3 separate regions of the Homo sapiens genome follow, and all the other regions are linked to region 1. Evidence: fine-mapped expression QTL. A gene starts in region 1. Each other region holds a variant in brackets. All regions are shown on one strand. Distances are between the middles of the regions.

The links. PIP is the estimated chance that this variant, and not a neighbour inherited with it, causes the effect. A credible set is the group of variants that fine-mapping cannot tell apart.
Region 2: its variant is the best candidate, but not a certain one, in a credible set for the expression of DOCK7 in NK cells (Gilchrist 2021, PIP 0.85).
Region 3: its variant is the best candidate, but not a certain one, in a credible set for the expression of DOCK7 in CD4 T cells (BLUEPRINT, PIP 0.58).

Annotation. Positions count from the first base shown.
Region 1 is chr1:62,687,129-62,689,984 of GRCh38, forward strand. It overlaps DOCK7 (dedicator of cytokinesis 7), which reads right to left and starts at 1,258. Exons shown (of 50, transcript NM_001367561.1): 1 at 1,099-1,258. The coding sequence starts at 1,136. It overlaps DOCK7-DT (DOCK7 divergent transcript), which reads left to right and starts at 1,354. Exons shown (of 2, transcript NR_185999.1): 1 at 1,354-1,524. RefSeq lists a silencer at 611-1,360 and an enhancer at 2,370-2,664.
Region 2 is chr1:62,460,391-62,462,890 of GRCh38, forward strand. The region is part of intron 48 of DOCK7 (dedicator of cytokinesis 7); the gene reads right to left. Among named protein-coding and RNA genes, the nearest start is that of USP1, 25 kb to the left of the region's middle. The variant T/TAAATAAAATA (reference allele first, on the strand shown) is at 1,287.
Region 3 is chr1:62,492,011-62,494,510 of GRCh38, forward strand. It overlaps DOCK7 (dedicator of cytokinesis 7), which reads right to left. Exons shown (of 50, transcript NM_001367561.1): 40 at 2,265-2,457; 41 at 694-837. Among named protein-coding and RNA genes, the nearest start is that of USP1, 56 kb to the left of the region's middle. The variant T/C (reference allele first, on the strand shown) is at 977.

The sequences.
Region 1 (2,856 bases):
AACTACAACTGCCCCAAAACAAAAAAAGGTAATTTAATATGAATGCTTCTTTTCTTGGGACATCATAATTCACACAAATATGATTTTATTAAAACAAAAATGTCTACTGTCTCATACATAAGTATACTCCACAAAGAAATTCTACAAATATTAGAGTCCTCTGTCATTTAATTTTTATTTGGCGGGTGGGAGAAAGGTGGCAACCAACCACCACAAGTAGGTGAAAGGCTTTGAAACCTCCACCTCAATCACTTGCTTTACTTCAAGACTGCAATCACTTGCTTTACTTCAAGACTGCTAACATATAAAAGGATGTCAGTGTATAAAGAACACTGCCTATCATCCATCTTCTCGGGTGCTCTGAGAAACACAGGCGCACAGTTAAATTCACAGGCGAACTCAGAACAAGCTTCAGCCTGCAATCCGTCAGGGATTCGGCAGCTGCACACCGAAGGTGCAGCCCGCAGCTCTCAACTTTTCATTCTGTCCACACGTTTTCAATCCTGGACGCACAAGTCCACTTTGAACCTGGCCCGAGGGTGCAAAGAGGGTTCCTGTCAGATTTCTCAGGAAGAGAGAGACGCGTGAAGGAGGGGCGGCCTCCCACCCGCCCCGAGCCGCCGCGCGTTTCTCCTTTTGTTGGGGTGGAGGAGGGCGGACCCCGCACCCTCTAGGGGCCAAGAGGGGTGGGCGGAGAGACGGGAGGGGGCGAAACGCCGCGGCGGCCCCCGACGAGCCCGGGGGTGGGAACACAAAGAATTTGGGAAGCGGCCGACCGCCCTTCCATAAACCTCCGCAGAAGTCCAGGCCCGGGCCGCCGAGGAGCAGGAGGAGGCGGGCGCGCTGGAGTCCGCGGCCCTCTCCGCTCCCTGCCGAGGCTCAGCGGCGGGCGCGGGCTGAAGGCCGGGGTTCGAGGGCGGCGCGAGGCCTCCGCTACCCCCTCAGCCACCCCGAACCCCTTCCGCCCCGCCGCGAGCCAGGCCGCGGGATCCCGGTGCCGGCCCCGCCACACCCACCCGCCTCCTAGGCCAGGCCTGGGAGGACTCCGCGGCTCTTTCTCGGGCGGCGGCGGCGGCGCGCCCCACGCCGGATATTTACCTGCTGATCTTCTGGGCGAAGGCGCGGCGCTCGGCCATGGCTGCTGCGGCGACGGCGACGGCGGCGGCGGCTGCGGCGGGCCGGGTGCGGACCGGCGGGCGCGTGCCTCCTCGCTCGTGCTCCCTCCCTCGCGGCCTCCGCCAGTCCGGGCTCCGGACCTGGGAGGCTGGGGCTGGCGGCCGGAGCCAGGAACGAGCCCTGCCGTAATGTTCCTTAGAGGCGCGCAACGAGAAACCGCTCCTCCCCCAGCGCGTCAATCCCGGCGGGAACCCCGGCTGCGGAAGGCGGCTGCGGCCGGCGGGAGCCGAGGGGAAGAATGGAGCGCTGAGGAAGCGAGGCGCCAGCCCCAGCCGCTTCGCTGCCGCGGAGCCTGCACGACCGAGAGGTCGCGGAGAGAAGCCAGAGACAGGCCAGCGACCTGGCGAGGCAAGAAAATAAGATAACCGAACGCGTAGGGGGAGCTTGGCTTTCCCGAAATGGAAGGGAAGGAAATGAAAGGTGGGCTTTGCCGAGGGGGCTGTGCTTTAACCAAAGCCCTGGATGACTGGGTTCATGTTTCTGCAGCACCGGTCTCCGAGCTTTTTAAAGCACTTGGGTTTCTGCTTCGGCCTCATGAATGCAGCCTAACTGGAGAAACAGTGGTTTTTCTTATAGAGAAAGAGCCAGAAAATACCTTGCTCCTGCAGCGATAACAATAGTAATAGTTGACTTCTGGTGCTTAGCCAGCCACTGGATTAAAGTTTTTCAAGCACGAGCGCTTTGAAGTAGATCGTTACTATCACTATTTTAGAGGGAAGGAAATTGGCTTGGAAAAGCTAAGTGACTGGCCCCAGGTCGCACAGATGGTAAACTCTTCCACTGAGACTCAAACCCAGAGCCGGTTCTTTTCTTTGAGGACAGTTGTTTCCGTATTATTAACCCCTTTTGGATCTCTCTCTGTCTCTCATACATACATATATATATATATATATATATATATATATATATATATATATATATATATAAAATCCAGGTGAGCTCTAACGTTCACCCCCATTTTGATGTTCTGTTAAATAAGCTCTGTGTTGACCACTGAAACTGACCTTGTCCATAATAGCCTATAAAACAGAGACTAGCAGAGATTTGTTTTCATCTGTTCTGTTGTAATCCCATAATGTCTAGAATATTTGGCTCCTAATGCATATCTGTTGATACTGAAATTATGGTGACACTAAGAAAAATATCTTGGTTTCTTGTAGTACCTTTCCTCTTAAGTATTGCAAGAACTTAAAATGTGTATTTATTTATTGTTATTATTATATTCTCAGTATGTCCTGGTGGAATATGTTGGATACCTGTTTTCCTCTCTTTTACCATTGGAAAATCTGTAGCTTGGAGCCATTAGGTCACTTGCCAGAGTCACACACTGAGTCAGAGGTGAAAGCCTCAATTAGTCAGATCCATAACTTCCTGTCTAGTGCTGTAACTTCTGTGGAAGACTGTGTATTTATATAACAATGCTCATTGCAGTAACACACTGCTTTTATTTATTGATTTATTTATTTTAGACAGAATCCCCCTGTGTTGCTCAAGCATGGAATGCATAGGGCACTGCAGCCTAAAACTCCTAGGCTCAAGCAATCCTCTTGCCTCAGCCTCTGGAGGAGTAGCTAGTACCACAGGCTCTTGCCAAGGCGCCCTCCAGTAACACACTGTTTTCAGATGCTTGTTTACTAAAGGAAAAGATAGTCTATTCAAAGAGGACAGATATTTGGCTTC
Region 2 (2,500 bases), 230 kb before region 1:
TTCCTAAACAATACAATATTAACAACTATTTACATTATATATTAGGTATTTTAAGTAGTCTAAAATGATTTAAAGTATACAGGAGGATGTACATAGGTTATATACAAATACTACACCATTTTATATAACATATTAAACTTGTCTTCAGATTTTGGTATCCACAGAAGGCACACTGATGGACAATTTTAGCAGAAAACTTGTGCCAATGTATTGAACACACACACACACACACACACACACACACACACACCCTCCAAGTATTTTTCTTTTTTTCTTTTTTTTTTGAGACAGGGTCTTGCTCTTTTGCCCAGGCTGAAGTGCAGTGGCACGATCTCAGCTCACTGCAGCTTTGATCTCCTGGGCTCAAGGGATCCTTCCACCTTAGCCTCCCAATTAGCTGGGACTACAGGCGTGCACCATCATGCCCGGCTAATTTTTGTAGTTTTAGCAGAGATAATGTTTTGCCATGTTGCCCAGGCTGGTCTCAAACTTCTGAGCTCAAGCGGTCTGCCTGCCTCAGCCTCCCAAAGTGCTGGGATTTACAGGCATAAGGTACCACACTGGCCAAGTTTATTAATTCCTGGAATAAATGAAAAGTTGGGTTATAAAATCACTAAGTTTTTAGATTAAAAGATTAAAGGAGATGCAGAATAAAAGCACTTGATAACAAACTTTTAAAACCTGTCATATTAAAAACTCTTTGCATAACTACAAATAGGTGGGTAGTCCTTTAACCATAATTAAAAATCTACAAAAAACCTGTAGCAAACATACTTAGTGGTGAAAACCCTTTTAGAGAAGGAACAAGAAAATGATGTCCTCTCTATTCCTAGTCAACAGAGTACTGGACGTCCTAAATATCATTATAAGACAAGAAAAAGATTCTACAGATAAATTATTAGAATTAATAAGTCTATTAAGATAATAATTCTAATAAGATAAATTATTAGAATTAATAAGTAAGTCTGGTAAAATTCTCATGTAAAAGTAATATATAAAGTTAACTGCAGCTGGGCACAGAGGCTCACACCTGCAATCCCAGCACTTTGGCAGGCTGAGACCAGAGGACTGCTGGAGCCCAGGAGTGAGAGACCAGCCTGGGCAACATAGTGAGACTCTGTCACTATAAAATTAGGTATAGTGGTGAACACCTGTGGTCCCAGCTACTTGGGAGGCTGAGGCAGGAGGATCGCTTGAATCCAGCAGGTCAAGGCTGCAGTGAGCCATGATCACACCACTGCACTCACTCCAGCCTGGGTGACACAGTGAGACCCCATCTCAAAAAA[T/TAAATAAAATA]AAATAAAATAAAATAAAATAAAATAAAATAAAATAAAATAAAATAAAATAAAAGTCAACTGATTTTTGGTAGAGCAGGAAACAGAAAACACAATTTTGAAAGATAACATTAAGGCCGAGCACAGTGGCTCATGCCTGTAATCCCAGCACCTTGGGAGGCAGAGGCGGGCGGATCACCTGAGGTCAGGAGTTCGAGACCAGCCTGACCAAGATGGAGAAACAGCATCTCTACTAAAAATACAAAATTTGCCAGGCGTGGTGGCACATGTCTGTAATCCCAGCTACTTGGGAGGCTGAGGTAGGAGAATCGCTTGAACCCAGGAGGCGGAGGTTGCAGTGAGCCGAGATCTTGCCATTATACTCCAGCCTGGGCAACAAGAACAAAACTCATCTCAAAAAAAAAAAAAATTAATAAAATCATAAAAGCATTATATACTAAAGAATAAATTTTAAAATGTACAAGACCTCTACACAAAAAATTTAAATAGTATTAAGAAAACATTTAAAAGACCTAAGTAAATGGAAAAATATACCATATTCATGGACTGATGTCAATTCTCTTCCAACTGATCTATAAATTCAGGTTATTTTTTGGGTGCATGGAGTGAAAAATTGATTCTAAAATTTAAAATTTATATAAAATTGAAAACAGCCAAAAACAGTCCTTCAACAAAACAAGGTGAGAGGAATTGCTCTGCCACACGGCAAAGCTTATTATAAAGCGGCAGTAGTTAAGAGAGCATGACATTAGCTGAAAGAGAGATAAATAGAGTACTGTAGGAGAATAAAGATCCCAAAAACATAGGCACATAAACACGGGTGCTTAATTTATAATAGTGATGACACTGCAAACCAGAAAGAAAGAAATTTATAATAGTGATGACACAGCAAACCAGACTTTCACCACAAACCTGTGAATGCTTTTTAAATAAGTGGTAATGAGTCAACTGGATATCTGTAAGGGGAAAAAAAACCTAAACCATATCTCATACCATATTCAATAAATGGCACTGAGATCATTATCAGTTATCAGTATGGACAAAAATCAAACTGATCCCTACCTTGAACCATACACAAAAATCAATTGCAAATGGATTTTTTTTTTTAAGAGATAGGGTCTCACTACGTAGACTTGAACTTCTGGCCTCAAGCCATCATTCTACTTTGGCCTCCTGTGTAGCTGGGATTACAGGCACTCACCGGCTCTTGCAGGC
Region 3 (2,500 bases), 200 kb before region 1:
GACTATCTTGGGCAACAAAGTGAAACCCCATCCCTACAAAAAATACAACAATTAGCCAGGTGTGATGGTGTGCCCCTGTGCCCCTGTATTCCCAGCTACCCAGGAGGCTGAGGTGGGAAGATATCTTGAGCCCAGGAGTTTGAGGCCGCAGTGAGCCAAACCACTGGAACACTGGGGGAAGTGACAGATTATTAAGATGAAAAGGAGTAAGCCAATAATGAATCTAGAAAGAAAATCTTTTCCTAGATAGTTTTTAGGGGACTTGAAATAAAAAACAATTTTTTTTTCTTTTTTTGGAGACAGGGTTTTACTCTGTTGTCCAGGCTGGAGTGCAGCAGCATAATCATGGCTCACTGCAGCCTCAACCTCTTGGGCTCAAGCAATCCTCCCACCTCAGCCTCTCAAGTAGCTGGGACCACAGGCATGAGCCACCATGCCTGGTGAATTTTTAATTTTTTGTAGAGACGGTATCTCACTATGTTCCCCATGCTGGTCTTGAACTCCTGGATTCAAGCAATCCTCCCGTCTTAGCCTCTCAAAGTGCTGAGATTACAGGCATGAGCCACCATACTGGGTCCAGAATAAATTATCTTTAAAGAAAAGTAGGGTCATAAGCCAGAGAGAATAAATACACATGTCATTGATAATTAGAGGTATGAAACTGTGGGAAAAGAATTAACAAGAGTCATCTACCATAGAGAAGGAAGCAGCTGCTTGTTCCAGTAATCCCACAAGTCCTGACTCAGTAAAGTATTTTCCAGAGCAGATACCTTCTTCATCTGGAGATACCACATCATCTGAGACCGCAGATTCTTCTAAAACATTAGATGAAATATTCTAGGGAAAAAATATATTGAAAAGGTTTTTGAAACAGAATTTTCTAGCATAAAAATGTATAAGAAGAAATAACTGAAGATGAACTGTAACTATCAGGTTAGGTTAAAAAAAGGAGAGTGATATAAAGGTAAAAGATAAA[T/C]CTCTAAAAACTTTCTGTATTTTGAAGATGATAATAAAATGAAAACACCATTGCTAGATAACTTTTCTCTTAATAAAAAGTTGTATGAAAGAAAATTAAGAAAAATCATGGGCTAAAGGAAATTGTAATATAACATAAGACATCTAAGGAGACATCAATAGTCTTTCTTATTTATTTAATTGATCTTTTCAAAACTCTCTGTAAAGGAAAAAGGGTACAAAAATGGTCTCTTGACTTATCTAATGTACACGGAGTTAATGAAAAAAGTCAGGTATAATAAAAGCCCTCTTATTCAATGAGATTGGAATCAGCCATTATTTCTAAAAAAGAAATGATACATACATACCCTATTTTATTTTAACCTAAACATTTACAGTAGATGTACACTCATTCATCAACTTTTGAAGTAGATCTAAGGCCTTTTCTTTGTGTGTATGGGTTTCCAGATCAGATTTCCACGGAATCTCTTTTGGGTAAATACCGATAAGGCAACACTCTTTTTAAAGATTTCAAGTTTTGGTTTCTTTTGAGTGAAAACTTAAAAGATTATCAAATTATTCTAGAATTTTAGGAGTTTCCCCTCCCCCAATCTATTTGTCTGGCCCACAGTTAATTCAACAGCAATTGTTTTGGAGATTCACCTTTCCTGAGTCTTTGTAAAACATTCAACTTTGTTTTCCGAGAAACGATAACTTTCTTTTTGCATTCTGATTTCATCAGAAGATATAACATTTAACTAAATTTTATAATATCTCAAACCTACTATTAACAGGTTTTGAAGAAAAGCAAAGCATAACTGACTCTTGGTAAGCAGAGAATTCAACTAGTGGGTCAGAATTATGTACCCTACTAGAGGGCAAACTCATCTGTGAGTCATGGTATTAGTCATAAAATAATCTAATATTTTATGTAGGGAATAGAGAATGTTGGTATATCTGCTATGTGAAGTAAAAGCCAATTAAGAATTTCTACTGAATTCTGATTATCAGTAATACATTTCCATAGATGTTAAAGTATGTAACGGATTACAAGGCAGTAAAGACAAAGAGAATAAATAAGCATAGTGCTGATAATTCAGAGGTAAGAAACTGTGGAAAGAGAATCAACAAGAAGTACTCCTTAAAAATGTATTAATGACAATCACTGTGAAATGTTAATTCACCTTGTGAAGCATTGGCTTAAGTCTTTAAGCTTTCCTTATAAACTAAAAAAATCTAAACACCAGTGAGAAAAGCTAAAACCAAAAAAAGATATACCTTGATTTAATGTACATCTGGAAGATTCCTACCTGAAATGTTACACATCCCACAGGAAGATATTTCCGGTCCTCCAGCATGCTCAAATATTCAGCAACAAGTGCTGCTGAGTGGACTAGACACTGTGCAGCTTCAGCATGATTGCTTCGTTCTGAGTGCTTGCCTGCCATGTTCTGCAACCAGGTCAATCGCAGATCTGGAGAGGTCTGGTAACCCTTGGCAATTCTAATTAGAACAGAAATTCTTCTCCATTAGTATGTGCTTCCCA